Homo sapiens: one gene and its partner. The protein of the gene in region 2 binds, or shares a complex with, the protein of the main gene of each other region. Each region holds a gene or a part of one and is shown on either strand. Other genes may lie near its edges. The genes, in order: OPRM1 and POMC. A codon is read from its position in the direction of its gene.

Region 1 (15,099 bases), on a different chromosome or scaffold from region 2:
GAAACTTGCCCAAGAACATTCAGCCCATCAGTAGTATGATCTGGGGCCATTTACATTTTTAGGATTTTGGCTATCCTAGGATTTTGGGAGGGCAAGGCAGGTGGATCACTTCAGCCCAGGAGTTTAAGACCAGGCTCGCAACACGGCAAAACCCTGTCTCTACAAAAAGTACAAAAATTAGCATGGTGTGATGGTGTGTGCCCATAGTTTTAGCTACTCAGGAGGCTGAGGCAGGAGGATCACTGGAGCCTGGGAAGTAGAGGCTGCAGGGAGCTGAGCTGGTGCCACGGCACTCCAGCTTGGACAGCAGAGCTAAATCCTGTCTCCAAAAAAATAAAATAAATAATTTTTTAGGATTTTATCTTGCATCTGCTGTTCTTATCTAATTGTAATGCTTCCCCTTAACCTGATGAAAATTTTAAAATTAAATTTACATATGTTTATGTAAAAATACAATTATCTGACTTTTTATTTACACAAATTTTCTTAAACTCTATTTGAAAACTAGGTGTTTGGAAAGATTTCACTATCATCTTTTACATTTAGTAAGAAAAAAGGTACACAATAAAAAAATACATTTCTGGCCTTCAATTTCTCCATTTATAGGAAAAGGATGTTTGGATAAGACAGTCTGCAGTGTTCTTTTTCAGTTCCAGTGTTCGAAGAACTGTGAACATTTTGCATCTGCTTGACATATCCAGTTACATTATTGAGATTTAGACGTTGATATTTGCTATACTATAGCCATTTGAAAGTCTATTTGTCATATTGAACTTCTGAAGCAATCAGAAAGAAATTCAGTTATTATAGTATATGCAAGTCACACTGCAAGCCTTAGCTGAAGCATTTAAAAATTCTATGAGAGAATTGTTCCTCCCATTTCCCTTCTATTTCCAAAGAGTAGCTCAAGGAGAGCGTTTTTAAAAGTTGATGGTTTGAATTTGAATGAGCCCATATTTAATGATACTTCAGGAATTTTGAATATAAGAACACCTTAGCTAATATAATAGAGAAGAATGAAGAAGAGTAAGAGTGAGATATTCTTCTTAAGTCGACAAATTATGAAATGAGTTAAATAGATGATTGTATTGTCAAATGTACAGTAGTCATATCTCATCCCACATCCACCTTTCACTGAATTTTCTGGTTGTCAACGTTTTAAAAAATATTTTGCTATTTGTTGATTAAGTTATTCTTATTTCTTAATATCATCTTTCATAGGATTTGCTTTTCTATTACATCTTAAAGGAATCCATTTCATCATAATAAATCATTTACTTTTTACACTTCAAGGGACTTAGGTATAGAAAACTTGAATTTTATATATGTGTGTATATATATTTATATATATAATATGTAAATATATATTACGAATCCTGGATTATATATACATATATATTTATATTTATAAAATCTCCTAAATATATATTTTTTAACCTTTATAAATATTGGATAATGTGACAAAAGTAGAAAGAACCTAGGTAGGGATTGCTAGATTTTGTAGATATCTAGTATTCTTGGGATTTCTGGTGTCTGTATAGAAAACAGAATAGTAGATGGTAGCTGATTTTACACAAAAAATGTGCTCTATACATTAGCTCTTTTTCCTTCTTTCCCAAGAAATACTTCACTTTATACAGACAAATTGCTCACATTATTTTTCTATATATTCATTCTTAAACTGAGAGGACCAATATTCAAATTGTGATGAAATTTTCAGCCTATATTTATTTGGTATCTGATAATGATATGGAGCCAATTTATCAGGCTATTTATTTCTTTGCATGTGTTTCTAATATGTTCAGATGTTATAGAAAGACAAGATGGTTAATTTCCTTTGATTCATACACAGTAAAGCAACAAGCACTACCTTAAATTCATACTTATCTCACACCAGTTAGGGTTAATATTTATGGGTGTATTCCTTTAGCACACACCACTGGCAATGGGGATGACTGGGCTTGCATGAGCTCTGTGACTTTTTGATATATATTATGATATATGTCATAATATGATAATATATATTATGATATATGTCATAATATGATAATATATATTACGATATGTCATAATATGATAATATATATTATGATATGTCATAATATGATAATATATATTATGATACGTCATAATATGATAATATATATTATATGTCATAATATGATAATATATAATATATATATCATAATATGATAATATATAATATGATATATATCATGATATATATCATATGATATATATCATATGATAATATATAATATGTTATGATATATATCATAATATGATAATATATAATATGTTATGATATATATCGTAATATGATAATATATATGTTATGATATATATCATAATATGATAATACATGTTATGATATATATCATAATATAATATATAATATGTTATGATATATATCATATGATAATATATAATATATTATGATATATCCTGATATGATATATATTTGATATATATTATGAAAACTCATGTTTTTATGAAACTCTTCATGTTTATTATGAAAACTCTCCATGTTTTTAAAAACTACAATTACAATTTAACATTTGAAATGAATCTTGTTTCTAGCCTCCCCTACCCACATCATATATATGTGTGTATATATGTATATACATGTGTGTATATATATGTGTGTATATATGTGTATGATCTTTATTTAAGAGATTTTATTGCAGTAGAGTAGAAGTCATAGACGATATGGTTTCCTTCCTCCCTCCCTTCCTCTCTCCCTCTCTCTCTTTCCTCTTTCTCTCATTCTTTCCTTCCTCTTTCTTTTTCTTTCCTTCTTTCTTTCTTTCTTTTTCTTTCTTTCTTTCTCTCTTTCTTTCTTCCTCCCTCCCTCTTTCTTTCTCTTTCTCTCTTTCTTTCTTTACTTTCTTTCTTTCTCTTTCTTTCTCTTTCTTTCTCTCTCTCTCTCTCTCTCGCTCTCTTCCTCCCTCCCTTCCTTCCTTCCTTCCTTCCTTTCTTCCTTCCTTCCTTCCTTCCTTTCGACAGACTCTCATTCAGTTGCCCAGCCTAGAGTGCGGTGGCACAATCACTGCTCATTGCAGCCTCAACTTCCCAGGTTCAATCAATTCTCCCACCTTAGCCTCCTGAGTAGCTAGACCTACAGGTGCATGCCACCGCGCCTGGCTTTTTTTGTTTGTTTGTTTTTTGCAGAGATCGACTTTCGTCAGGTTGCCCAGGCTGGTCTTGAACTCCTGGGCTCAAGCAATTCACTGGCCTCGGCCTCCCAAAATGCTGAGATTACAGATGAGAGCCACTGCACCTGGTCTGGCTCTAATTTTTTTTCTTCATCATGAAAAGTTCCTATTCACGTGAAACTCAGAAACTCTACTCTATAAAGAAACAAATTCTGAGTGTGAAGGGAGAGGACTGATGAAATTGTGGCTTTGGATTCTTGATTTCCAGGGAAATAATAATTAGAAAAGGAAAATTATCAATAAGACAAATTTTGTTCTACACCCCACAGAAATTTCTATTTCTCATAATGTACTCTCCAAATTAATTTTGCCATTTTTGTCAAATTTTAGCAATTTACAAATATTTATTTGCAACCTGCCAAAAGATATAGTGATCAGAATGACATCCAAAAGTTAACAGCTGGTTTGTGATAGGTCATATACATTCAAATATCCTTTCCTTTAGTGTGAAGGAGAAAATGCAAAAGCAAAAATAAATACTGTGAAACTGCATTTCAAAATCATAGAGGTAGAAGTAAAAATAAACGTGGTGTTGTTGAAAGTTAAAAGAGAAAAATATGCACCTTTTCATATTTAGCATCCAAAACTACATGAGGTAGAAAATAAAGATTGACATGTTCCAAAACACTAAATCTCAGTGAGAGTATTTTTACAAAAAATGGCTGTAAAATAGCAATTCACCACTTAAGTTTAACCAAATAAGATGACATCTCATTTTGTTAGTTTTGAAAGGAAAAATATGTTGCTGTTTTTCAGTTAGTTACATTAGTTAGAACAGTCAGGAAAAGAAGATACTGCACCACTTTAGTTAATCCAATCTTTAAAACTAAATTTCCCTAAATTTCTCAGGTCTGAGACCATGCTGAGAAGAGTGAAAAATAGACTGGAATATATCAGGGCACATTGATTAAAAGCCTGGGTTATAAGATGGAATTTAACTGGAGTCAATAGTTAGCCACTAATTAAAATTTTTTTTCTAATTTTTAAAATTTTATAAATTTAGTAGAGACAAGGTCTTGCTATGTTGGCCAGGTTGGTCTCGAACACCTGGCCTCAAACAATCCTCCTGCCTTGGCCTCCCAAAGTACTAGGATAACAGGCGTGAGCCACTGCACCCAACCCTCAGCCACTACATTTTAACTATGACCTTGGGCAAGTTACTTCCTTAAACATTAGTTTCCTCAACTATAGAGTAGAGGTTACAATCCATATCTAATATGATTAAATAAGATATCCCATCCCAGACACAAAATGGTCAATATATGTTATTATGAATAGTCTAAAAGCCAAATTTTTCTAGGGATAAACACATTTTTAACTAAACAACATTTTCTCTCACATATCACAATAATTTATAGAAACACATACTAATTTCTTCTGCTATGCATGAAATATTAATTTTAAACCTACATTTACTCTAATTCCATACATGCAAAAAGAGACATGCCTATATCACACGCACACACACACACACACACACACGGAACCATTTTCTTTTTAAACTGTAGAACTGAAAGAATAGCCATTTTGATTTCATTCACAAAATAAGCATTAATGTTGTCCACTGCTGTAATTTTGTGAGCTATTCTCATTTGAGTTTTTTTTCCCATTGAATTGAAACAATTACTTTCCCAAATTAACTCTCCACAGATGTCTTGTAAAAAAAACTGAGATCAACTTTTGAGAGTGATGTATTTTATTTTAAAAGTAGGCTTCTGCTTTTAGTTTAGCTGGGGATAATATAGTTCACAGTTAAACCAAATACAGAGCATCTCCTAACTTCTTGACCCGCTATTTTGATTAAAATGTCAAGAAAGTGCTTTAATAATAGTAATTAGAGGGTTTAGGACTGGACTTGCCATATTAATGGAAAGGAATTAGCAGGACATGCCACGACGTTCACTTTATCACTATTATATTGCTTTTTCCTGTAAGACCCACGGGTAGATATGTCAGAATATTAAGGCTTTTTCCAAGGATAATTACATTATTTCACAAAACACATAACTCATTTGGTGAAAACATTCATGTCAATCAGCTTGACTGAAATGGCTAGACAGGTTAGACAAAACAGTAAATGTGCTACTTTGGAGATGAAGGTACAGTTTAAATAAGAGATTTCAGTTTATTGTTTTATTTAAAAGGCAGATTCTTGGACCCTCACATAACAAACTATAATTTATTAGAGCAGTTCTTAAGAACTTACATTTTCTGGAGCTCATAGTAAATGTTGAGAATCTGGCTGAGACCATGTGATAATAATTGAGTGCAAAGTAGCATTGTGTAGGAAAGCAGAGAAAAGCTGTGGAGTAATATTCGAAGCCCTGGGTGCTTGTCTGGATTCTACCTCTTCCTGGCTGTTTGATCTTATATAATGATTTAACTTCCCTGAGCATTTTCTTACATTTACCCATCAGAGTTGTTATAGGAAGCAGATGTGATAATGCCCATAAAAGCACTTTTGAATCTGTACATTGCCATATAAATGTAAGGCAGCATTATTATTATAGTGGTTGTTAGTACTAGCCTGGTGCAAAAATAATTGCGGTTTTTGCCATTGAAAGTAATGGCAAAACCCGCAATTACTTTTGCACCAAACTCTACCGTTTCAGTGATAATTCAACTGATGTAACAGTGTTGCTTTTTTCCCCATATAATGCTAAACGTTTTCAATAATCACCTACGTGTCAAGATATAAAATGCGTTAGAGGCCAGACACAGGGGCTCACGTCTGGAATCTCAGCACTTTGGGAGGCTGAGGTGGGCGGATCACTTGGGGTCAAGAGTTTGAGGCCAGCCTGACCAACAAGGTGAAACCCCATCTCCACTAAAAATAATACAAAAATTAGCTGGGTGTGGTGGCGCATGCCTGTAATCCCAGCTACTGGGGAGGCTGAGGCAGGAGAATCGTTTGAACCAGGAGGAAGAGGTTGCAGTGAGCTGAGATCGCACCACTGCACTCCAGCCTGGGCGACAGAGTAATTCCATTTCAAACTAAAAATCAAAAAACAAACAAACAACAACAATAACAACAAAAAGAAAATGCATTAGATAATATGATGCGGGTGGAAACCAAGTGGGCAAGGCAGGTTAGCAGTGGCCAACAGTTCAGGTTTGAGTTGAACCTGAAGTGATCGAAATAAACAAGGGAAGGGTTTGAAAGCAAAGTGGAGTTCAATAGGACAACAGCAGTGTAGGGCGTGTGTGGAGAAATTAAATTGCACTGAGAACAGATGGAAAATGAATGCCTATGCCTTAGTCTACCTAATAAAGATCTAAAAGTCATAAAGACAGCAAGCTGAACATAAATCAGGCACAGAGGCTACAGCTGGAGCAGTAGGCTGAGCCCAGGCATGCACAAAAAAAACACGAGACCATCTTTTTTGTTTTTTCATACTCAGCTAGGGAAAGACCTCTTTAGGGCACTGAATCAATCTCTTGGTCTCCTTATCAAAAGTACGCGTTAGAAATAAAATTAGAAAACAACCATGAATGTAACTGATTTTTTGAAAAGTATAAATAACATTGGATCAGAGTAGCAAAGGCTGAGGAGGAGAAAAGGAAGAAGGCCTATTTTGAATATTTTCCCATTACTGACGGTAAGAGGGTTAGGGTACATAGTCATTTAGGTTGTTCGTCAGTTGCATGATGAAGGGGTCATGCCTGCCACATCTCCTGAAATATCCTCAGCCCTCTCATCATTTATTCAACAGACATGAATCTGTCCAATGCTTTGGATGTTTTGGAAGTACTTTCTTTCTTTTCTTTCTTTCTTTTGAGATGGAGTTTCGTTCTTGTTGCCCAGGCTGGAGTGCAATGGCACGACCTGGGCTCACTGCAACCTCTGCCTCCCAGGTTCAAGCGATTCTCCTGTCTCAGCCTCCCAAATAGCTGGAATTACAGGTATGTGCCACCACACCTGGCTAATTTTGTATTTTTAGTAGAGACGGGGTTTCACCATGTTGACCAGGCTGGTCTCGAACTCCTGACCCCAGGTGATCCACTAGCCTTGGCCTCCCAAAGTGCTGGGATTACAGGCATGAGCTACTGTGCCTGGCCAGAAGTACTTTCTTTTTAATGTGCTAGACTCTGGCTTGGGAGAGCAAGACAGACACGGCTCCTGCCCTCAGGAAGTAATGGCTTCCCTGTCTCATGCAGCATGTCCTTACTACGGATTGTTAGCAGAAGTGGTCATAATTATTCGCTCCCTATATACCTATCCTTTTGCAATGTGACTGCAGATCCTATCAGCAAGAGATGGAGTCTAATTTCTCACCCTTTGAATCTAGGTTGGCAGGATGACTTTATTTGACCTATAAAACCACAGAGTTGACCGTATGCCAATTCCTACTCTATGCCAAAAGACGCTTTCCTCTTTTCTCTCTCTCTTTCTTTCTCTTGGAATCTGTGACCACCATGAGAACAAGGCTGGGGTAACATGCTAGACGGTAAGAGTCCATGTGGAGCTAGTCATTCTTGCTGAGGCCATGTAGATCAGCTAGCTGACCACCCGCCCATCGGGCAGCTGCCCTCCGAGCAAGCCCAGCCAATACTGGAAGAACGGTCCAGCCAAGCCCAGCTCCAATGGCTGTTCTACAGAATTGTAAACTAAATAAATGGTTGCTTCTAGCCACTACATTTTGGAATGATTTGTAATGTAACAAAAGCTGACTGAGCAGCTCTTAACTGTGTAAGTATGACTCTAAGCTTATTTTGGGCACAGAATTTTCTCATTGGCTTATCAAATTACCTTGATAACTGCCAAATCGCCACTCCACTTTGCGCTGTATGGAAATTGCCTCAGTGGACAGTTGTCAGAATACAGACACCCTGGGAAGGTTTGATATTGGATCTCTGATCTGCAGAATATGAAGTTGACTAATGTGCTTGAAATGTGACATATAGAGTATAATATATTCCTCAAAGAAAGTACAAATACATAAGGCAGAACATAAACATCCACAACCAATATAAACTTCAAACAAGTAGTTGAAAAGTTAAATGCAAATCCTATTAGCTTTGTTTTCCAACATGATGGGTCATGATGTGAAACAACGACCAAACACCTGTTTATCACATTCTGGATTTGTACAACTAACTTAACATGTCCTATAGACACAGCCATCAAGTCTCCAATTTCTCCTTCAAGTCATTTTATTATGTTGATATATTATTGAAACTATCACTAGCAGCTTATGTATTGTTCCAGTTGTCTGGTTGTAACTGCTTTAATTCTAATGATGACACATCAGTGGAGATTAGCCAAAGGGAGCTTTGATTTATCTTAATTTTTAAATATGTCAGAGCATCTTTCCCTCTTTTCCTGGCAGCCTCTCTTCTGTGTCCAGTTCTCTCAGTTGGGCATTTTGGGACAGCAACCAATTCGAGGGCTAATGTGTTTCTGCTGTTATCTTACACTGATACTGCTTCATAGAGGCAGCGATGAAGATAAGGCCTAATTGGATGTATTTTTAAAGCAAACCTTTTAGTTACTTGGAACAGAACTCCTCCAATTAGCTTCTTTTCTCTTCTATCTGGCTGTACAATAGCCATACTGATGTGAAAATGCCGAATTTGGAAGGGAGTCAAGGGCAGTGTCGGGCAACTGAAGAATAATCATGCTTAACTCAGGAGAAATGCTCCACCAGACGGGCTGGGAGCAGTATTTCCACGAAGGCAGGACGAGTGAAGGATAGCTGGGAGGTCATATCTGACAAGAGGTCCTTGCAGTGGTCCAGGGTACACAACCAAGCAGCCTTGCTCTAGAGCCCAGCAAGACAGGGAAGGTATAGGTAGGCACTAAAGGAGAAAGAGTCAGTACTTTATAATGGCCATTATTTTGCTCCAATGGAAATATTTTACTTCAAAGCAAAATATTTTATCCTTAGCTGAGGACTAGGCATTTTAAGTTGCAATCTTTAACATGTTATCCCCAGGTTGGTGAAAATCTATTTAAATCCCTGCCCTTTTAAAGTTACTTACAAGATTCTAGCAGCCACTGAATAGGAGGGCTGCTTAGCATTAGGTTGGTGCAAAAGTAATCGCTGTTTTTGCAATTACTTTTTAAAAGTAGCTCCTAGTAAAAGGAGTAGGTTTAGCAGTCTTGATGTGGAAAAAAACGTAGAGAAAAGAAGCAGAGTCAAAACCATTTCTTTCTGGCATTCATTTCTGAAATGGAATTAGAACTGAGACATAATAAGTTAATTTCCCTTTGTCTGGAAGTGGGTCTGCCATCATTACCTCATGCTCTCTAGGGGGTGTGAGTTCCTGTGTTCCCTTGAGCATCACTGAATACCAGGGGTATGAGGATTAATGTCGCCCATGACGGATGTATCTGGGCCATATTACATTAGTCCTCTGGTCAATTAGAAAGGTTGAGCCTGGGCTGGGCTGGATGGCAGAGTGGGGTAAAGAGGGGACAGTGAGAGACAGGGTGTGGTCAAGAGACAGCAGGAGGAAGCCACTGCACCCTGTGGTGGCAAAGGCCTCCCCTAGCTCCTCAATCATTTGACTTGCTATTCATTTCTCCGGAGCCATCTGTCCTCACAGTCCTGACGCCTGACTCTAGGAACTTTAGCCAAGATTCTGACTCCAGCCTTTACTTCATAGGAAGTTTGAATTTGAATTCACTGTTAAAAAAATTATACAGGCTGTGATTTTTGGATGCTGGCATCATTATTTAAAATTTACTTACTTAGATTAATATTAAAAATTAAGCCATGTATTTGATTGATTTTATAGATCAGAGGTCAAATTTAGCCAACCAGTGGCTTAATCAAGTAATACTAACTTGGAGACAGCCTTTTCTCTTTCCTCCTTGTTGATTTCCCATATGATTATAATAGTGTGTATAAGTCTTGAATTTTCTGTGTAGGTCTGGGCACAGAAATACACCTTCCAAAAGCTAGTCGCTATTCACCCTATTATCTCCAACAAGCATGAGGTCTGTTAAAAATTGTTTAATCTAATAAAATTTATTAGATTAATATTCACATATTAATAATATATTATTCAGTCTAATATGTTTGATATTTGTGCTAGAGTTCAGGTAGCAAACCAATAGCTTAAGAAAAGTTAGGGATGGTCATTTTTTAATCTTTTCTCCTTTTCCATGATGCTAATTTTCTGTGAATATCTTGCATCCATGACCACAGTGGGCAAGGCACTCACCCTCTCTCTTTAATCACAGAACCAGAGCAAGACTGGCTTTTGAGAAATAAGAGGGGTATTGCAGCAACATCTATGAATTATATAATAATTCTGGGGAAAATGAAAAGGATTCTAGATCAGAATTATTTCTATAATGTGCTAAAGTCATAAATTTTGCATAGAAGTAAAGGCCATAAAAATAGTTATTTTGAATAGTTTCATGGATTTCTCATTGGTGTATCTTTATACCTAAATGAATATGTACAGTCAAATATAAAGAACACAGTTTATATAACAAACCTCTTCTCTAACACTAGAACCACAATTTGCTTCCCCTCTTCCCTCCATTCTCATCCTCTATAATGGATTAAACTCCTAGTTTAGCACAAAGCCTTATAATTTTTATGTCATCCCCAGTAGATATACCTAATTCTAGAGACTGCGTACCTGATGATTAGTTCTATCCACTGTATTGGCCGTGGAGGGGTGGTCTCTAGTGTTCTGACGAATTCGAGTGGAGTTTTGTTGCTCAATGTTGGAAGAGGTTGGGATACAGAACTCTCTGAAGCATCGTTTGAAGTTTTCATCCAGAAATGCATAAAGGACTGGGTTGAGGCAGCTGTTTGTGTAACCTAGAGCAATGCAGAAGTGCCAAGAAACAGTCTGGAACGTAGTTTCTGGGATTGTAACCAAGGCTTTAATGATGACGTAAATGTGAATGGGAGTCCAGCAGACGATGAACACAGCCACCACCACCAGCACCATCCTGGTGATCCTTCGAAGATTCCTGTCCTTTTCTTTGGAGCCAGAGAGCATGCGGACACTCTTGAGGCGCAAGATCATCAGTCCATAGCACACGGTAATGATGAGCACTGGCATAATGAAGGCGAAGATGAAAACACAGATCTTCAGCAGGTTTTCCCAGTACCAGGTTGGATGAGAGAATGTTAGTGTACAATCTATGGAACCTAGAAGAAAGGAATTTAAAGGAAAAATTAGCAGCAACATTTAATTATGTCATAAGGTGTTAATACTGCCATTTTGCTCATTCATTTTTAGCCTTGACCAGAGCTAACTTAAGGCTATAAAGAAATTGTGGAAGAAACTCAGTTGTTTGTTACTTTTCAAAGAAAGTTTTACTTCTAATGTTTTTTGTTTTTTTCTAAATTTCCCATTTTGCAGTCCACTTCGATCACATTAAGCTTTCGTTCAGGGAACAAAAATGAACCTCTCAACATGAGCTAGATCCTCCATGAGGTCTATATTGATATAAAAAATGTAATAATTGTCCAAAGTCTCTAGGCGGCTCCAGGTAATGGATGTTTTCACTTCATTTTTTGATGGATTGTTCAATATTCTGATATTAGGTGTAGAAAGATACATTTGCCATGTAGTCAGCCACTTGATAATTTTAAACAAGCCTCAGTGTAATACTCTTTGGGTTTAAGCTCCAATTACTCTTGGGAGAGCTATGTACTAATTTACACACCATTTTTATGAAGTAAATACAGAGAAATCAGAAATAAATAGATTACATTCTCTTTAAAGGATTTAATAGGCCTAAAATTATGAGGAAAATTCCTATTTTTAAGTATTCAAAGGCTTTTTTTGCTAGGAAGAATAATTAAAATTACAATGTGACTAAGACAATGGGGCACTCCATAAATACTGCTTTGCTTATGACATCACCAACATATCAGGCTGTGAACCCTCCTTCCCTCAGGCTGGTAACATCACTCACCTTGCCTGTATTTTGTTGTAGCCATGAACATTACAGGAAGACCAATGGCTGAAGAGAGGATCCAGTTGCAGACATTGATAATTTTGGCATTTCGGGGAGTACGGAAATCTAAGGCCTTGACAGGGTGGCAGACTGCAATGTATCGATCAACACTCATGGTGCAGAGGGTGAATATGCTGGTGAACATGTTATAGTAATCTATGGAGATCACTATCTTGCAAAGGATGGTTCCAAATGGCCATGTTCCCATTAGGTAATTCACACTCTGGAAGGGCAGGGTACTGGTGGCTAAGGCATCTGCCAGAGCAAGGTTGAAAATGTAGATGTTGGTGGCAGTCTTCATCTTGGTGTATCTAGGAGATAAAGGAAGAAGAGTGAGAATCAGTAAAAGACACTAGTGTAAAATATAGGTAAGCTTCCAATAATAAATTTGCATGAATTAGTAGAAAGCTTTTTTGAGATTAGATATAGAATTGTTTTCCAGTATCAGCTTGGCTATTTACAATGATGTCAATGATGTACCTATTGGCTAAATAGCTGCAATAATAGCAACGATGCTGCTTTGTTGAGTTTCTTCCTTTTTTTTTTTTTTTGGATAGGATCTTGCCCTGTTACCCAGGCTGGAGTGTAATGGTATGAACAGAGCTCACTACAGCTTTAACCTCCTGGACTCAAGAGATCCTCTTGCCTCACCTCCTGAATAACTGGGATCCCAGGTGCATGCCACCATACCCTGTTAATTTTAAAAAACTTTTGTAGGGACAGGGTCTTGACATGTTGCTTAGGGTGGTCTTGAACTCTTGGGCTCAAGCAGTCCTCCCTCCTCGGCCTCCCAAAGTGTTTGTGTTACAGGCATGAGACACCACACGCAGTGAGGGTTTTAATTTTTTTTTTTGTAATGTGTCAGTCATTGTGATAGGTCTAATAGAAAGAGGGAGATTCCAGTCAAATAGTAGGGGCAGCGACTGGATAGTAATTCTAAATATAAAAGAGAAAATTTTAGCTATATAAATATAGTTAAAATTATCAAGAAGTATAATTGTGCAAGTGTCTATAGGTATGTACACAAACACATGCACATACAAACACACAGGCGATTATGGGGCACAGAGATGAGGCATCTCACAGAGCATAAGGCAAAGGGAATAGTAGGAGTAAGATGTGGAAGGCATCCTGGAAGTGCAAGTTTAATCTCAAAGCACAAGCAGGATGATTGAGTTAGACACTTGGTAGGAGCAGGTCATTCTAGACAGAGAGGTAACAGAGAGAACCCCAACAAAGATGTAGAGTTGGAATGGCCTGATGTGTGTGTCAAGCACATTCTACCAGGGAATGGCAAGGGATCTGACTGGGGAAGAAGAGAGGCCAGTACATGAAGAACTTGTATGCCATGGTAAGATTAGACTCTATCCAATCCATGATGAGGAACCCAAGTGTGTTTGCTTTGTTTTTATTTTTTAATGCTTTATTGAGGTGGAATTGACCTATAATAAATAACGCATAATTAAAGTATACAATTTGATAAGCTTTGATACGTGTGTACACCTGTGAAACCACCACCATAATTAAGATCAGAGATTGGCAAACTATGGTGTGTAGACCCAATTGGACCGTTGCCTGTTTTATAAATAAATACACCTATTTAAAAACCCATAAGTGTTTTGATGCTACAATGGCAAAGTTCAATAATTGCAACAGAGATCAGATGACATGCAAAGCCTAAGTTATTTACTATCTTGCACTTTACAGAAAAAAATGTCAACCTCTGATGAAGATAATGACATCAATTGCTCCCAAAAGTGTCTTTGTGTAGCTCTTTAATCTTTCCTGTTTGCCCCTCCCTGTCCTCATATCCAACCCTCACTATTCCTCAGGCAATTGCTGATCTTGGTTTGCTTTCTGTTCTTATAGATTAGTTTGCATTTCCTAGAAGATGCAAATAGAATCATTCAGTATGTACTCTTTTTTTGTGCTGCTTCTTTCACTCAGTGTCATTATTTTGAGATTCATCTATGTGGTTGCATATAACAAGAATTAATTCCTTGTTATTGACAAGTAGTATTACTTATGCATTCATCTGTTTTTTTTTTTAATCCATTCACCTATTAATGGGAACTGAGTTGCATACAACTTTTGGATGTTACAAATGAACTGTTACGAACATTCATGTGCAAGTCTTTATATAAACATATGCTTTTCTTCCTCCTGGGTAAGTATCTAGGAGTGTTATATGTTTTCAAGGCCTGCAGAAATTAGAAATATGATAGTAGAATATAAGCAGGTACACTTGCAATAATACATTATATCTGATGGCAGAAGTATACCTTGTAAACATTGGACATCATTTTTTTTTTAACATTCCACATATATTTACCTTAATTTAGTAATAGTACCTCAGTTTCACTCTGGGAACCACTCATTTCCCGTTCTCAGTCCAGGTGCTTTGGGATAGGCTGTATTACCAGTCCAGGGCGTGAAGACGTTTAGTGACCGGGGCCATGGTGAATGGCAAGGATGCTCTCATGTTCCAACCAGAGCCAGTGAGAGTTTATTTTGAGACTTATGGACAAAGAGTGTATTAGTTTTCCTGCAGGACCCACACCTGAGAAGACGCATGGTATGTAGTTGCTGGAGGAGCTTGTCTGAAAATGGACCTAATCCGGAGGATGTGGATTTGAGAGCGTGAGAGAGAACCCCACACCTGAAGCCAGGCCCTCCTTGGGCTTCTGATTTACACGGTGCCATCAATTCCTTTTAAATGTTAGCTTGTGTTTACTGTTTTTCCGTCACACGAGGTTGAGTCTAACTCATTCAGCCCAAGACAGCTGTTGGTTGGAGGCCCTTTGTTTAGGACTGAATTCAGTGTCCAGGAAAGTGTTTTGGTTTCAATAACATCAGGAAAGTGATTTCATAAATCTCCTCAGGGTCAATAGGACAGCTTTGTTACTGAAGCTTTAAAATTCTGATACCTGATCTGGTCTGCAATACTTGCAG
Region 2 (15,552 bases):
CCACTGGCCAATTTAGGCAGCATTTCGAGCAGCCTGATTTGATGTCCTGCACACAAATTACTCTGGTGATCACTATTACCCAGACTCCAGTAACTTTGGAGAGCTTCGTTTTTAAAGCAGATCTCAGTTCTTTGAAATCTGGCTCATCTTCTGGACACGTCACGTGTCAGATGTCTTGTTCTCTAGAGCTCTCAAATGTGGTCTGAAATGGCAGGATTTGAAGAGGATGCAGATGTGGAGGGGAAAGAGACCAGAAGGGAATTACCTCCTGGTGGAACAGCCACTGCAGATACTTTTGGAGAATCCAGCAAGTGCCTGTGGGCAGAAGCTGAGGTCAAGACACCAGGGGACAGTAAGGAGGGGGCATCCATGGTGCCCCTAGCCCCCTGTACCCACCCCTCTCTCCAGCACTACCCTCGCACTGCCAAATTTCCCTTAACCAGGTGGGCCCCCTGAAGCCACCTCGAGGCCGGAGATCAGCTCACCGCCAACCCTACAATCATTTTGGATTTCAGAAGATCTTCTCAGCCAGCTGCTAGAAAGAAATGTAATTAGATGAGAAAAGTAATTCACATTAAAGCGTGGATGACTAAGTGTCTTGTCACTCCTAATGAACGCTGGCATTTTAAAATAAGTTTGCCTAAAATAAATCTCTCATTTGGGGAGGCGTGGGCCAAATCTTTTTTATATAGGGGAGGCTTTGGAAGTGAAAGTCCTCTGAAGCGCTGATTTCTACTTCAGGAGGCCACTTCCTTCTCTCTACCCCACCCTCGCCCTATTCCCCAGGCGCTGGGCCTGCACGGTGCTAGCTTCTGAAGGGTTGCCGGGCAAGGCTGAGCATTTTCAGAGCAGCCATTAGATGGCACTGGCAGCCAGTGACTGGCCCAGGTGCGCTTCGGCTAAAGGGGCAACTGAACGAGCTTTGGTCAACCTTGGTGTCCTCTCCTGGCTCCAAGGGACAGGCTGTTCCCATTGTACCCTGCCAGTGATCTATTCAAGTACACAGCCAGAACTTGGTGGACCAGGCAATTAGATTAAAGCTCCAAGTTGACCATAGCACATTTAGCTCTGAAAAATGCCCAGATGTTACAGTCACAGAAAAATGGTAGTTACGTATGTCACCAAATGCAAATGTAAAGTAACATATTAGTAAAGGAAAAAACAAAATCTTACAGGTCTGATAGTTCCCTCAATTATATTTCAATTCTTGTCAAAGATAACTACTCTGGAGTGATTTCCATTTGCTAGAAGCAATGACTTCAGGCCTTCCTGGAAAGCCCCAGAGAGCATTTCCCCTCCTTATGCCCTATGTGCTGTGTTGTACAATGTGGTAACATATTCACTCCCACCCTCTCAGAGCTTATATTCTGTTGCTAAACTGGTTAGATGGCTGCTATTGCTAAAACTTCAGATTCTTCCCTGAAAGATGGTCTTGTGTTTGTATTGTATATTTTGCTTATGTGTATGTGTATTTGCTTATGTGTATTTTCAGTTCTCTACAATGAACAAATAGTACCTTTTGTGTCATTTTTAAAGCAACAAATTATTGGGGAAATATCAAATGTTGTGCTTTTTTAAGTAGGGAAAGTATTATAATCCAAAAATGGAAAGCTCTGGAAAAATAGAAACTTGAAATTTGCTCATCCTGAGATTAACTTTATAGTAGAACTACACTTATTAGAACTTCATAGGTGTGAGGGGCTCTCTATGAGCTCAACAAATCATTTTGCTTGTTACTGTAAAACTGCACGCTGGCCATGACCTTTTGTAAAGATTAGAGGAGCACAGGGGCCGAGTTTTGTCCTTACACCATGACATACATGCATCGAGTCCTATAACAAAAGCATCAAAGGAACAGTAAGTCATTAAAGTGGCCATAATCTGTGCAGAGTTTATAAACTGACACACACACAAAAAAAATCCACACACACTTTTATTTTCCTTGGCTCCTTCCAGCCATTCTGTAAGAACCCTCCCTGCCCCATTTAAACATGAAGAATTTGGGGAATCCAAATGCCAAGTGGACTGTCTCTCCTTCGCTGGAAACGCCCCTTACCTGAGCCTTGATCATTCCAAATGGCTGCCCGTGCCCTCAACCCAGGATCTGCGCCATAAACCGTCCACCCCGGTTCTGTTGAGGGCATCCGAAACTAGACAGTGCGTTTCAGGATCTAGGACAGCTCCCGCCCCGGCCACCTGTTTTTAACCCCAGCTAGGTCTTGGAGAGAAGAGACCCAACTATTCTGCATTGTAATTGACCCAGTTATCATGTAATTATCATAGCGCGGCCACCTCGGGTGCGCTAAGGTGGGCAAGGAAACAAGGATTCAGGGGTCTGAATCCGAAAAAATCCGGAAGGCAGGGCGTTCATTATGACTTTTATCCTTTTCTCTGCTGCCCCGTTTCCAACATTAATTTGCGATAGCGTGTATGGAATTTGACTTTCAAGATGTGACACCTATCCTGGAAACTGGGAGCAAGAGATACTAAAAGACCGGGCTGGCCGGGGGCGGTGGCTCGCGCCTGTAATGCCAGAACTTTGGGGGGCCAAGGCGGGCGGATCACCTGTTGTCGGGAGTTTGAGACCAGCCTGACCAACATGGAGAAACTCCGTCTCTACTAAAAATACAAAAATTAGCCGGGCGTGGTGGCGCATGCCTGTAATCCCAGCTACTCGGGAGGCTGAAGCAGGAGAATCGCTTGAACCCGGGAGGCGAAGGTTGCGGTGAGCAGAGATCACCCCTTTGCTCTCCAGCATGGGCAACAAGAGCGAAACTCCGTCTCAAAAAAAAAAAAAAAGACCGGGTTGTCCCAAGACCTCCTAGCAAGCTCTCGGAGCCTCCGGACCGCCGCGAGCCCCTGGGGGAGAGGAGGCCGCCGGCTCCCTGGAGACAGCGCCTGCAGCTTCGCGGCCGTCCGCCCAGGGGCCGGACGTGGGCCCTCCAGCTCAGCTACTGGCGGCTTCTCATGCCGCAGTCGGCGCAGAAAGTTTGTCGAGAACTCGGGACCGCGGAGAGCCAGAGGCGCCCAGGTCCGCCTTCGGAGCCGGAGCCGGCCGACTGCATCGCGAGGACGGGGACAGGGGATCCCGGGGAAAGAGCACGGGTCCCCCACGCTGCGCCCTTACCTGTCTCGGGAGGCTGCTCTCTGAGGGCGGGGACGCTCGGCGGCCTCTCTCGGTCGCGGCTCTTCTTCCCCTCCTTCGCCGCCGCTTGGTCCCGCGCTCCTCTGTCCTTATATACTTGCCGAGCTCTCCTGGTGGGCGCGGGACTTTGACCTTCCCGGCAGCACAAGGAGCAGCTCCCCGGGCCAGGGGAAGGGGGGCCGCGGGGCGTGGGAGGGGGGCTTCCAGACGGGGGACGAGCGCGGGGAGACGCGCTGGAAAGGGGCTGGAATTAGCACTGTCCTGCCGAAGGCGCACCTGGCCGCTCGCCCTCAGGAAGAACTTAATTATGGATGGCGTTGGGTCTCCGCTTAGAACGGGCGGGAGGCTTAGCACCCCCGTGTGGGGCAGGCCGGGCAGCCTCTGAGGTCGTTGAGGCGAGGGTGAAGTTACCTGCGTGCGTGCTGGGGCTGGCATCTGCCTGGTTCGCATTTGGCGGTAAATATCACCGTCTGCACACGGGGAGGCCTCCGATTTCCCCATTGTTTGGAAACTGTGATGTGGAAGTCGTGGGGAATCATATTCTCTCTGTTCCACTTTGGGGAGGGGAGGAGGGAGCAGAAGTCAGGAGCCGTCTTGTGGGTGTGAAGGTGAGTTGCACTGCTCCCCTGGGGCCTGCTCTCCAAGGGCCTGGTTTAGGGGAGGCTCCCTTCCGTGTCCCAAGCCTCAAGGAAAAAGTCCTGTTAACCTAAACCATTAAATGGGGAGAGGGTGATGCTGTGAAGAGCAGCTGAAGTGCTTTCCCTGTGGCCTCTGATCCCTCCCTTTGCCATGAGCTGGCAGGGTGGTCTGGGGACTCAGACAATTTTCAACATCCCCCTTGGCCCTGGAGTTCTGGCTTGGCTTTAGTTCCAAATATCAGACCAGAGAGAAGAGTACAGCACTCAAACCAAGCTAAGAGACTCTACCTTAACCTGGAGTAAATAAACAAAACCAAATTGTGCGATGTGGTGGGTGTGGGAGGGAGTATTGGGACTAAACTGGACTTCAAATCAAGACACTTGCTTAATCTGCCAAATGCCAGAACTTTCCTGATTCCCCATGAGATGCTCTTTTGGACTCCAGGACTCTCTTGTGGATTCAGCTTTTCTGGTGACATTGGCTTTACATTCAGCAATCCTTTCCCTTTGGACCACAAGAGAGATCCAAGCTCCGTCACAGTAGACAAGGTGCTTCATCACCCGGCTTTGGCCCCTTTCCAGGGCCATTTCCCAGTTCTCCACCTTGCATCCTGGCACTTCAGCATCCACAACATTCACACTGCTAGAACATGGCTTTCTTGGGTCTCCATTGTCCAAGCTGTTCCCCCAACTAGAACATCCTTCCTCTCTCCAGCCATCCAGGAGCTTGACTCACATCAAGATGTAGCCCATCCATCAGCCCCTGTTCTCTGAAGCCCTCTTTGGCCACTTTTCCTACCAGGGGCATGAGGCATGACCTCCTCTGCCTTCCACAGAAGTCCATCCCCATCTTGTCAGTGCAAGTGGCTTGCACTAATTCACTTCTGTCCCCATTTTTTTAATCTTCCATCCACCCCACGACCACCATCAGGTTTGTAAACTCTTTCAAGCAGATGGTGGTTTTGCCTTATTTTACTTTGTGTTATTTTTGTAACTTCAGGAGGCTGCTGGTGGCAGCAGATAAAACAAACCAGGAAAAATCCAAATGGACCCAACTTCTTTAACTGGGTTCCTTCTTTCTTTTCTTCTCTCTCTCTCTCATTCTGTTTGTTTGTTTTTGAATTAGGGTCTCACTCTGTTGCCCAGGCTGGAATGCAGCAGTGTGAACACTGCTCACTGCAGCCTCCACCTCCTGGGCTCAAGTGATCCTCATGCTTCAGCCTCCTGAGTACCTGGAACCACAGATGCATGCCACCATGCCCAGCTAATTTTGGGTTTTGGTTTTTTGTTTTGTTTTTGTTTTTGTTTTTGGTAGAGACAGGGTTTCACTATGTTGCCTAGGCTGGTCTCAAGCTCCTGGGCTCAAGTAATCCACATCAGTATCCTGAAGTGCTGGGATTACAGGTGTTAGCCACCACACCCAGCCCAGTTTCTTAATTTAATGCAGCAGAACCTGCTTTGGCCTCCATGAACTGAAAGGCCATTGAACTGCATTTAGAATCACTGGGTAGGCGGGGCACAGTGGCTCACGCCTGTAATCCCAGCACTCTGGGAGGCTGAGTTGGGCAGATCACGAGGTCAAGAGATGGAGACATTCCTGGCCAAGATGGCGAAACCCCGTCTCTACTAAAAATACAAAAATTAGCCGGGCGTGGTGGCGCACACCTGTAGTCCCAGCTACTCGGGTGGCTGAGGCAGGAGAATCGCTTGAACCTGGGAGGCGGAGGTTGCGGTGAGCCGAGATCGCGCCACTGCACTCCAGCCTGGCGACACAGCAAGACTCCATCTAAAAAAAAAAAAAAATCACTGGGCAGGTTGGGGGACCAGGATCTAAAAATGGGCAGGGACACAGTGTGGCTGGAACCATGGCCAAAATCACATCCAGTGGAGAAAAAAAAAACAGACCACAAGGGGCCACAAGGGGCATGTCAAGACCACAGGCGTCTGACATAGACGTCACTTCTGTCCCCAGGATGGGACGCTGCCATTCTCACTTCAGCTAATGCCACTAGAAAGGAGTCACCACTGCCCTTGCATCCTTGTACCACTAGCTCCTCTTTGAAAGCCTAGAACAGGTGCCTTTGATTGTCTGACATGACATAATTTTTCACCTTTATTCTAGTAATGTGGTGAATTATTGCATTGTTGATTTTTTGGTGTTAAACCTACCATGGCTTCTTAGATTAAACCCAATTTGATTATGATGTATTATCCTTATACAGAAAGCACTGGACTCAATTTGCTAATATTTTATTTAAGACATTTGCATTGATGTTCATGAGATGGGCCTGTAATTTTCCTTTCTTGTGGAATTCTTGTCTAATTTGAGTATCAAAAAATTATGCTGTTCTCATAAAACAAGTTGGAAATCCATCTTCCCTCCCCCTTTTTATAATTAAGTAGAATAATTTGCGTATAATGGTGTTATCTCGTCCTTAAATGTTTGGGATGATTCACCAGTGATGCCATCTAAATCTTTAAGATTGTTTGTTCATTGAAGTTTTTAATTACAGAATCAATCCTTTCAGCTGGAGCTGGAAAAAAGAAGGAAAAATGTTTTAAACCATTACAAATTCAATTACTTAAGTGGCACTATTTCAATTGTCTACTTCTTCATGTGTCAGTTTGAGTCAGATATGTATTTCTAGGAATTTGTCTATTTCATCTAAATTCTTTAATTTATTGGCTTAAAATTGTTTATTATATATTTTAAGCATCTGGGATCTGTGGTTTTGGCCCTTTTCATCTCTGATATTGGTTATTTGTGTTCTCTTTTTTCTTGATTCATTTTCTTTTTTCTTTTTGAGACAGACTTTCACTCTTATTGCCCAGGCTGGAGTGCAATGGCATGATCTCGGCTTACTGCAACCTCCGCCTCCCGGGTTCAAGCAATTCTCCTGCCTCAGCCTCCCAAGTAGCTGGGATTACAGGGATGTGCCACCACATCTGGCTTATTTTTTGTATTTTTAGTAGAGATGAGGTTTCTCCATATTGGCCAGGCTGGTCTCAAACTCCTGACCTCAGGTGATCTGCCGGCCTCAGCCTCCCAAAGTGCTGGGATTACAGGCGTGAGCCACTGTGCCTGGCCTCTTGATTAGTTTTCTTAGGGTGTTATCCATTTTATTAGTCTTTTTAATAATCCATTTTGGTTCTGTTAATTTTCTGTACTATATGTATACTTTTTTATATTTCTGAAATTTTTACTCTTATTATATCGTGCCTTCTACATCTTTGGGTTTAATTAGCTATTCTTTTCCTATACTCATGAGTTGGACATTAAATAAATACTTTTACTTAGATAATTGATATTGAACCATTTTTTTCCTTTTTTTTTTTTTTTTTTTTAATATTGCCTTGACTCATCTTCAACTCTTGGGCTCCAGTGATCCTCCCACTTCAGTCTCTCTAGTAGCTGGGACTATAGATGCATGCCACTGTGCCCAGCTCCTTTATTCTTTTTTTACATATGTATTTATGGCTATATTTTCTTTCTAAGTACAGCTTTATATGCATCCCACAACTTTTGATATGTCATATTTCAATTACCATTTGTTCAAAATATCTTTTTATTTTCATTGAGATGTCTTCTTTGACCTATAGGTTATTCAAATATATTCTGCTTAACCTCTAACCCTTCCAATTCATATTACCAACTTAGAAAAAAAAGAAAAACTTCTAAACCTTGGGGATTTTCCAGTCATGTTTTTAAACTAATTTTTTGCTTAATTCCCTTGTAGTCAGAGAATATGCTCTGTTTGATTTCAGACCTTCGAAATTTTTTGAGGCTTGCTTAACAGATAAACATAGGGCTCATTTTGATTAGGGCTTCCTGTGCACTCCAAAAGAAGTGTCTCACTGCACTGTATTCTGTGACTGTATATTCTCAAATATTCTATATCCTTTCTCTACCTATATCCTTGCTATTTGTCGTCTTATTCTATTAGTTACTGAGAAAAGTATGCTTTTTAAATCTCCTCACTATTTTTGTGCATTTCTCCATTTGATCCTGGCATAAAAACAGCACAACTCAGCCGGGCACAGTGGCTCACGCCTGTAATCCCAGCACTTTGGGAGGCCGAGGCAGGCGGATCACCTGAGGTCAGGAGTTCCAGACCACTGTGGCCAACATGGTGAAATCCCGTCTCTACTAAAAGTACAAAGATTAGCCAGGCATGGTGGCGCATGTCTGTAGTCCTAGCTACTCAGGAAGCTGAGGCAGGAGAATTGCTTGAATCCGGAAGTCAGAGGTTACAGTGAGCCAAGATCATGCCACTGCACTCCAGCCTGGGCAACAAGAGCGAGACTCTGTTTCAAAACAAAACAAAACAAAACAAAACTCTATGAACTGAATGGTGATTGTGGGTGGAGGGTAATGTTGGATCAAGGATAAAGATGGCAGAAAGGGCCAGGCGTGGTGGCTCATGCCTGTAATCCCAGCACTTTGGGAGGCCAAGGCGGGCAGATCGCAAGGTCAGGAGTTCGAGACCAGCCTGATCAACATGGTGAAACCCCATCTCTACTAAAAATACAAAAATTAGCCAGACATGGTGGCTTGCACCTGTAATCCCAGCAATTTGGGAGGCTGAGGCAGGAGAATCGCTTAAGCCTGGGAGGCGGAGGTTGCAGTGAGGCCATTGCACTCCAGCTTGGGCAACAGAGCAAGCCTCTGTCAAAAAAAAAAAAAAAAGGAAAGAAAGAAAGAAATAGAGAAAAGAGAAAAAAGGAAATTCTGAAATCTGGCCTGGCACGTGTGACCACGTGACCAGTTCCTTCAGAAGGCAGTTCCACTGCCCGGAATGAATCTCCTTAGCTCTTGGTTCCATCCTCTGGGCTCTTGGTTCCATCCTCTGGGCTCTTGGTCTATTCTCTGTGTTAGCTTTCCTTTTCCATAATAGCCAAGATTTGCACCTGAATAATTTTCTTGCTTGCTTCCTGCCTATGGTATTTCAGGGGCTCAAAAGCTTCTTTTTGTTTGTATACTCCAGCTCGACCACTATCTGTCATATGGATTAAAGGAGGCAATTCATGTAAAGATCTTAGAGCAGGGCCTGGTCCCTAGTTAGTCCTGTACAACTGCTAGCCCTTAACTTTAATATTATGGGAGTGTTGGTGAGAAGGGAGGAGGGAAGAGGAAGGAAGGAAGGAAGGAAGGAAGGAAGGAAGGAAGGAAGGAAGGGAGAGAGGGAGAGAGGGATAGAGGGAGGAAGGAAGTAGAAGGAGGGAGGGAAGGAAAGAAGGCAAGGTTGGAAGGAGGGAGAAAGAGAGGGAGGAAGAAGCAAGGAAGGGAGGGAAGGAAGACATAAAAGAAGGGAGGAGGGAAGGAAAGAAGGAAGGAAGACAAGAAGGAAGGAGGGAGGGAAGGAAGAAAGGAGGGAAGGAATAAATGAAAGAAGGAAGGAGGGAAGAAAGGAGGGAAGGAGGTAAGACAGGAGCAGACACAGGGTCTTTTGGACAGGGTAGCTGATGGGTTTGTTGGGAGACCCTGCTTGTGAGGACTCCTGGGGCCGGGGCGATGCACCTGCACCTGGCTGCGGGCGTGCCAGGTGGCTGTAGACGTAGGGCTGGGGCTGCTCTCATCATCTCAGCTTTTCACCTTTGAGGTTTTAATTGGAAAAGAGATGTCACCAGGGTGTGAGTGCGTTACAAGGGCAGGTGCAGGGGAGGCTGATGACTGAGAGGACAGAAACAAGGACAGGGTGGCAGAGCCCAACATGGGGCAGGGGATAAGGAGGTACAAGGAGGGTGGCCTCGTTGTCAGCCTCCAGGCATTGGGACTGGCAATGGGGGACATTACCCTGGGAGAAGAGAAGACTTAGGGATGAAGCTGCCTCATGTCTGTGGGGGACTTTGCTGGAATAAGCACCAATTCATGCCTTAAGGGTCTGAACGAGGAGCCCCAGCTCCACCTTGGCACGCCCTTCTTCATTCTCTCTCCATAGTCTCCATGGACAAGCTGGGGGCAGCTGCCATCCCTGTCTCATGGAATAACAATTGTCCCTTCTCGGAACTCCTTAGGCTCAGCCAGGGCCTCTTCATTCCTGCTGTTGTTTGGTCTAGAGGGGCCCTTGGGCTGCTCAGCTGGTGCCGGTTGCCTCTAAGGGCACAGCTCCCATAATCAGTGCCTGGTAGAGAGTTGGTGCTTGAAAAATATTTGTACAGCAAGGGTAGGAGGGGATGAATGAGGAAGGGAGACCCTCTCCCTCTTAACCCTCAGTTTGCAGAAACTCATGATTCTCCAAAACCCTCTTTGTCAGAGGCGTTTGAACCAGAGCAACTCCATCTTGAATAGGGACTGGGTAAAATGAGGCTGAGACCTACTGGGCTGCATTCCCAGATGGTTAGGCATTCTAAGTCATTGGATGAGATAGGAGGTCGGCACAAGATACAGGTTATAAAGACCTTGCTGATAAAACAGTTTGCAGTAAAGAAGCCGGCCAAAACCCACCAAAACAAAGATGGCCACTGAGAGAGTGACCTCTGGTCCTCACTGCTACACTCCCACCAGCGCCATGACAGTTTACAGATGCCATGGCAATGTCAGGAAGTCACCCTATATGGTCTAAAAGGGGAAACATAAATAATCCACCCCTTGTTTAGCATACCATCAAGAAATAACCATAAAAATAGTTAACCAGGCCAGGCGTGGTGGCTCAAGCCTGTAATCCCAGCACTTTGGGAGGTCGTGGCAGGTGGATCACGAGGTCAGGAGTTCAAGACCAGCCTGTCCAAGATGGTGAAACTCTGTCTCTACTAAAAATACAAAAATTAGCCGGGCGTGGTGGCAGACGCCTGTAATCCCAGCTACTTGGGAGGCTGAGGTAGAGAATTGCTTGAGCCTGGGAGACGGAGGTTGCAGTGAGCTGAGATCACGCCACTGCACTCCAGCCTGGGCAACAGAGTAAGACTCTGTCTCAGAAAAAAAAAAAAAAAGTTAACCAGCAGCCCTCCAGGTCGCTCTGCCTATGGAGTAGCCATTCTTTCATTCCTTTACTTTCCTAATAAATAAACTTGCTTTCACTTTAATCTATGGACTTGCCCAGAATTCTTTTTTGCGTGAAATCCAAGGACCCTCTTTTGGGGTCCGGATTGGGATTCCTTTCCAGTAACATCTCCGTACTCCCTCTGTAGGACACATGAACCTGAAACAGGGAAGTGCCTCCTCTTCATTGTGTCTGAATGAGAAATAGCCCAGTATCTTCCCCTTTATGTGGGCATTCAAGAATCGTGAGCACTTTCAAGAAATCCTAACTACCGCTAAAATTGCACTGGGGCTCAGAAAATTATACCCCAAAATATGGAACTAAAGAAGCAGCTTCAGTTCCTTTGAAGAACCTTCAAAATCTCGCCCTGACCTTCCCCTCACTCCCTGTCTCTCTGATTTTTTCCAAAACACCAGAAGGTACTGTCTTTGGCATTTCCATATCTGACTAAGGAAACTTCTTTCTAAAAGAAATACAATTGCCTGAAGCCTCCCTTCATAGGAATCTCATCAAATAACCAGGAAAGAAAGATTAACCACCTGAGAAGAGACGGATCATCACCGCCTCCAGACAGACTTTTCTTGCATTTTTCTGAGGGCAACTCCAAGAGATAGCCTAGGGGGGTTACCTGCATAATAAGACAGGCTGCGTTCACAATGACTTTCTGCTTCTCACCTTCACACCACCTACCCAAAGAACAGAGAAGAACTTTGTCCCAGGCCATTGTTCCTCGGGCGCATTCACTTTCCCAGAAAATCATTTACTCCTATGCCCCTCATTTTCCCTTCCCCTATCAAGAAATATCTGCAGGCATCTGGACCTCATTGAGTTACTGGGTAATCATTCTCCCACCATTCTGCTATGCTATACACATGAAATTAATTTGTATGTCTTGTTCCCCTATTAATCTGTCTATTAGCAGTTCATTTTCAACAAAACTTCAGAGGGCAGAGTGAAGGAAGGAAATTTTCTCTTGGCACCCACAATTGTCAATAGAAACCCTAATTAAGCATCCCTCTGAGGGGAGCCTGATGTGGTTTGCAGGGCAGACAGGGAGCTGCCTCCAGAAAAGGGCCTGAAGCCTGAAGCACTGCAGAGGAGAGGGTTACTGGTGCCCCAGATGGCCCTACAATTCAGGCGGATCCCACTGCCCCGCTTCACCCCTGCAACACGCCCTCCCCAGTCTCAGCCTTTTCATTGAGCTTCTCTCATGCAGCACTGCAGCTGGGCTACTTCACCAGCCTTCGGTTTGACCTCAAGGGCAAAGAGGAATCAATTTGTGCAGAGAACTGGAATGAAAGAGATTTCAATTGACCTTTGAATGGGGTTTTAATTTGCTTTATTCCAGCCAAAGGGACCTCGTGAAGAGACCCTTGAGACTGCTTTTATCCACTAATGCGCGCATTAGTGCAGCAGCCTGGGCCAAGGTCTGCATGGTCTGGGTGCCGCAGAGCACAGTGGGGAGGGCCAGAGTCCATGCCCCTCCCTAGAGCAGGTTGTCAGCACCCTCAGGGTCCAAAGCAGAGTCAAGAGTGGAGGAAGGGCCTAGGTAATATGGTGGAACCCCATTTCTACAAATATATATATATATATACACGTATATACACACACATACAAAAATTAGCCGGGCATGGTGGCACACGCCTGTAGTCCCAGCTCCTTAGGAGGCTGAGGTGGGAGGATCACTTGAACCTGGGAGGTGGAGGCTGCAGTGAGCCATGATCATGCCACTGCACTTCAGCCTGGGCAACAGAGCCAAACCCTGCCTCAGAAAAAAAAAAAAATAGAGTGGAGGAAGAAGCAGTGGGAGGGGGTGAGGTGACCTGGGTTCTAGCCCCAGCTCTGTGGCCAGCAGACACAGGGACCTGGGTCAGTCACTCCCCCCACCCCCACCCCACCTCCAGGCCTCAGCCCCCTCATTTGAACAATGGGGGCGGGGAGGATGTGGTCCGTTTCAGGCCTGTCATTCTATGATTCTAGGCTCAGATCTAGAGTCAAGCTCTGTGATTAAAAAACAAACAAACAATAGTCTTACAGAACGTGGCCCCTAATGGGCACAGCTGAGTCCTCTGGGCTGAGGAGGTAAGCTCTGTCCTTCTGTCTCTTGGGCCTTTCTCGTGTCCTGTTTCTCTCTGAGAATCTGCTCCAGTCTGCACACATGGGCAGGCCAGTTCTCTGCTCTGTTCACTCTGAATCCCAGAGGAAACTAATGGGGCCACTAATTACCAGCACTCCTGCTGCAGGCAGCCACCCATGGGGTCCAAGTGGCCTGTGGAAAGCCAGCCCTGATCAAAGAGCCCTCTGCAGCCGCTCCTCACACAGAGCCAGTTCCATGGGACACCCCAGTAGAGAGCCTGTAAGTTTGTGTGCACAGTCCTGCATCAGCAATGGCAGGTTCTCTCTTACCCTGAGCTTATTACACCTGGGTATATTGCCATGTGGAGCCACATGTATTCTTTTAGAACCACTCCCTTATCCCAAGCCCTTTTTTCACAATGAAGGCTTGCGCCTCTGCAATCCAAGTAGACTTCCTGGAAGTAGTGTCTTTGCTGAAGATGTTGTGGACATAACAGACACACCAGGCTCTGCTAGATGACGTCCCTGCTGCCGCTCTTTCCAGACAGAGCTCAGGTGCCAGCGGCCACCATTCTGACTCAGCGGTGGTCATAATGGTCCTTTTGTGGGGGACAGGCCTTTGTTAGGGGCTCGAGCATGACTGCTACTTTTCCAGAAGAATGCGGAGTTCTCCAGCCAGCAGTTGAGGTAGGGAGAGTGACGTGGTGGCCAGGAAGGACGCCACTAATGCACATCCATTAGTGAGTGCATCACAGGGCGGCATTCAGAAGCTTCCGAGCGGTCCTCCTTCCTCCAGACCCAACAATGGCTGCGTGGAGGGGGCTTGAAGTGGCCTTTTTACAGGCACTCAGCTCAGTCTCCCTCTCCAGCCCCCGCCCCCGTTAGGTACCCATCTTCCATTTCCATGCCTGCTGCTCAAAGGAATGGAGCAGCCAGGACAGCGAATCCAGGCAGCCCACCTGCGGCCCGGAGAGCCCCCACTGTGCCCTCAGTCCCATTGCCCCAGGAGAGGGACACCAGGCTGGGCAGAGCTGGTGCACAGTGACCTGCTATGCAGCAGCTCAAAGAGCCCATGACTCTGTGTGTGTCTGTGCATGTGCATGCACGTGTATGTGTGTGTGCATGTGTGTGTGTGTGTGATGGGAAGGGTGCAACGACTCCTGAAATGGGTTTGAAAGGTAGTTTGGTTTGTTTTTAACACGCTGTCCAAAGCCTTTATGTCCAGTTGAAAGTGATTCCTTTCCCAGCATCCCCCTAGGCAGCTGTTCTTGGTGCCATTGAGGGGCTGGGGCTGGAGCCTTTGGCAGACCCCTTAGGGGAAATGCTTCCAGACCAGGTCTAATCCGCCTGAGAAGGCCAGTCTCTGACTTCAACATCTCATTTCAAAAAACATGTATTCGCTGGGCATGGTGGCTCACACCTATAATCCCAAAACTTTGGGATGCCAAGGTGGGTGGATCGCTTGAGGTCAGGAGTTTGAGACCAGCCTGTCCAACATGGCAAAACCTCATCTCTACTAAAAATACAAAAAATTAGCAGAGTGTGGTGGTGTGTGCCTGTAGTCCCAGCTGCTCAGGAGGCTGAGGCAGGAGAATCTCTTGAACCCGGGAGGCGGAAGTTGCAGTGAGCCAAGATTGTGCCTCTGCACTCCAGCCTGGGTGACACAGTGAGTGAGACTCTGTCTCAAAAAACAAAAACATGTATAAATTATGTTCTTTTAATTTATCCTTTATATTATCGTTCAACCTTTAGGTTGAAGTTATTTTTCTATGTATTATGAACATGAGAAGGTTATATTATCAATGAATTTCATTTCAAGATAATAAATAAGGTCTCACTACTTATTTATTTACTCTTGAAAGGGTATTTTGCTGCTGATGGGAATGTAAAATAATGCCACTTTGTCAAAGAGTTTGGCAGTTCCTCAAAATGTTAAACATAGAGTTACCATATGACCCAGGAATTCCCTTCCTAGGTATATACTCAAACATTTTTCCACACATTTTGATAAAATTTGTATGCTCACAGATGCATTATTCATAAGAGCCAAAAAGTGGTAGCAACCCAAATGTCTACCTACTGATGAATGGATAAATAAAAAGTGATATATCCATAAAATGGAATATTATTTGAGAACAACAAAAAAAAAAATGAAATACTGGCGGGGTGTGGTGGCTCACATCTGTAATCCCAGCACCTTGGGAGGCTGAGGTGGGTGGATCACCTGAGGTCGGGAGTTTGAGACCAGCCGGACCAACATGGAGAAACCCCATCTCTACTAAAAATACAAAATTAGCCGGGCGTGTTGGTGCATGCCTGTAATCCCAGCTACTTGGGAGGCTGAGGCAGGAGACTCGCTTGAACCCAGGAGGCAGAGGTTGCAGTGAGCCAAGATCATGCCATCGCACTCCAGCCTGGGCAACAAGAATAAAACTCCGTCTCAAAAAAAAAAACAAAAAAACAAACAAACAAAAAAAAAGAAAAAGAAATGAAATACTGATATATACTACAACATGGATGCATATTTAAAACATGATGCTAATTGGAAAAAGTCAGACACTAAAGTTCACATATTGTATGATTCCACTTATATGAAATACCCAGAATAGGCAAATCCATAGAGCCAGGAAGTAGATTAGTGGTTGCTAGGGGTTGGGAGTGTCAATGGGAAATGAAGAGTGGCTGCAAATGGATACAGGTTTCCTTTTTGTTT

The links.
Region 1: the proteins of POMC (region 2) and OPRM1 are in contact, whole or in part, in a cryo-EM structure (PDB 8F7Q), measured with the Homo sapiens proteins. Residues at the interface, in NP_000930.1 of Homo sapiens: Tyr237, Gly238, Gly239, Phe240, Met241, Thr242, Ser243, Glu244, Lys245, Thr248, Pro249, Leu250, Val251, Leu253; in NP_000905.3 of Homo sapiens: Ser66, Met67, Ala70, Ile71, Met74, Gln126, Asn129, Tyr130, Leu131, Met132, Gly133, Trp135, Val145, Ile146, Asp149, Tyr150, Met153, Arg213, Ile217, Asp218, Cys219, Thr220, Glu231, Lys235, Val238, Ile298, Val302, Lys305, Trp320 (codon at 11,018), Ile324 (codon at 11,006).

The regions. Positions count from the first base shown.
Region 1 is NC_000006.12:154,087,185-154,102,283, reverse strand, and holds part of OPRM1 (mu-type opioid receptor), read right to left. Parts: exon of another isoform or gene 14,480-15,099; intron 12,523-14,479; exon of another isoform or gene 12,459-12,522; coding exon 12,106-12,458; intron 11,333-12,105; coding exon 10,812-11,332; coding exon of another isoform or gene 10,797-10,811; exon of another isoform or gene 10,476-10,796; coding exon of another isoform or gene 10,395-10,475; exon of another isoform or gene 10,327-10,394; intron 9,015-10,326; coding exon of another isoform or gene 8,838-9,014; exon of another isoform or gene 8,764-8,837; intron 8,075-8,763; exon of another isoform or gene 7,966-8,074; intron 1-7,965. UniProt on the Homo sapiens protein: Receptor for endogenous opioids such as beta-endorphin and endomorphin. Receptor for natural and synthetic opioids including morphine, heroin, DAMGO, fentanyl, etorphine, buprenorphin and methadone.
Region 2 is NC_000002.12:25,165,371-25,180,922, forward strand, and holds the start of POMC (pro-opiomelanocortin preproprotein), read right to left. Parts: upstream 3,211-15,552; 5' UTR 3,128-3,210; intron 316-3,127; exon of another isoform or gene 266-315; intron 1-265.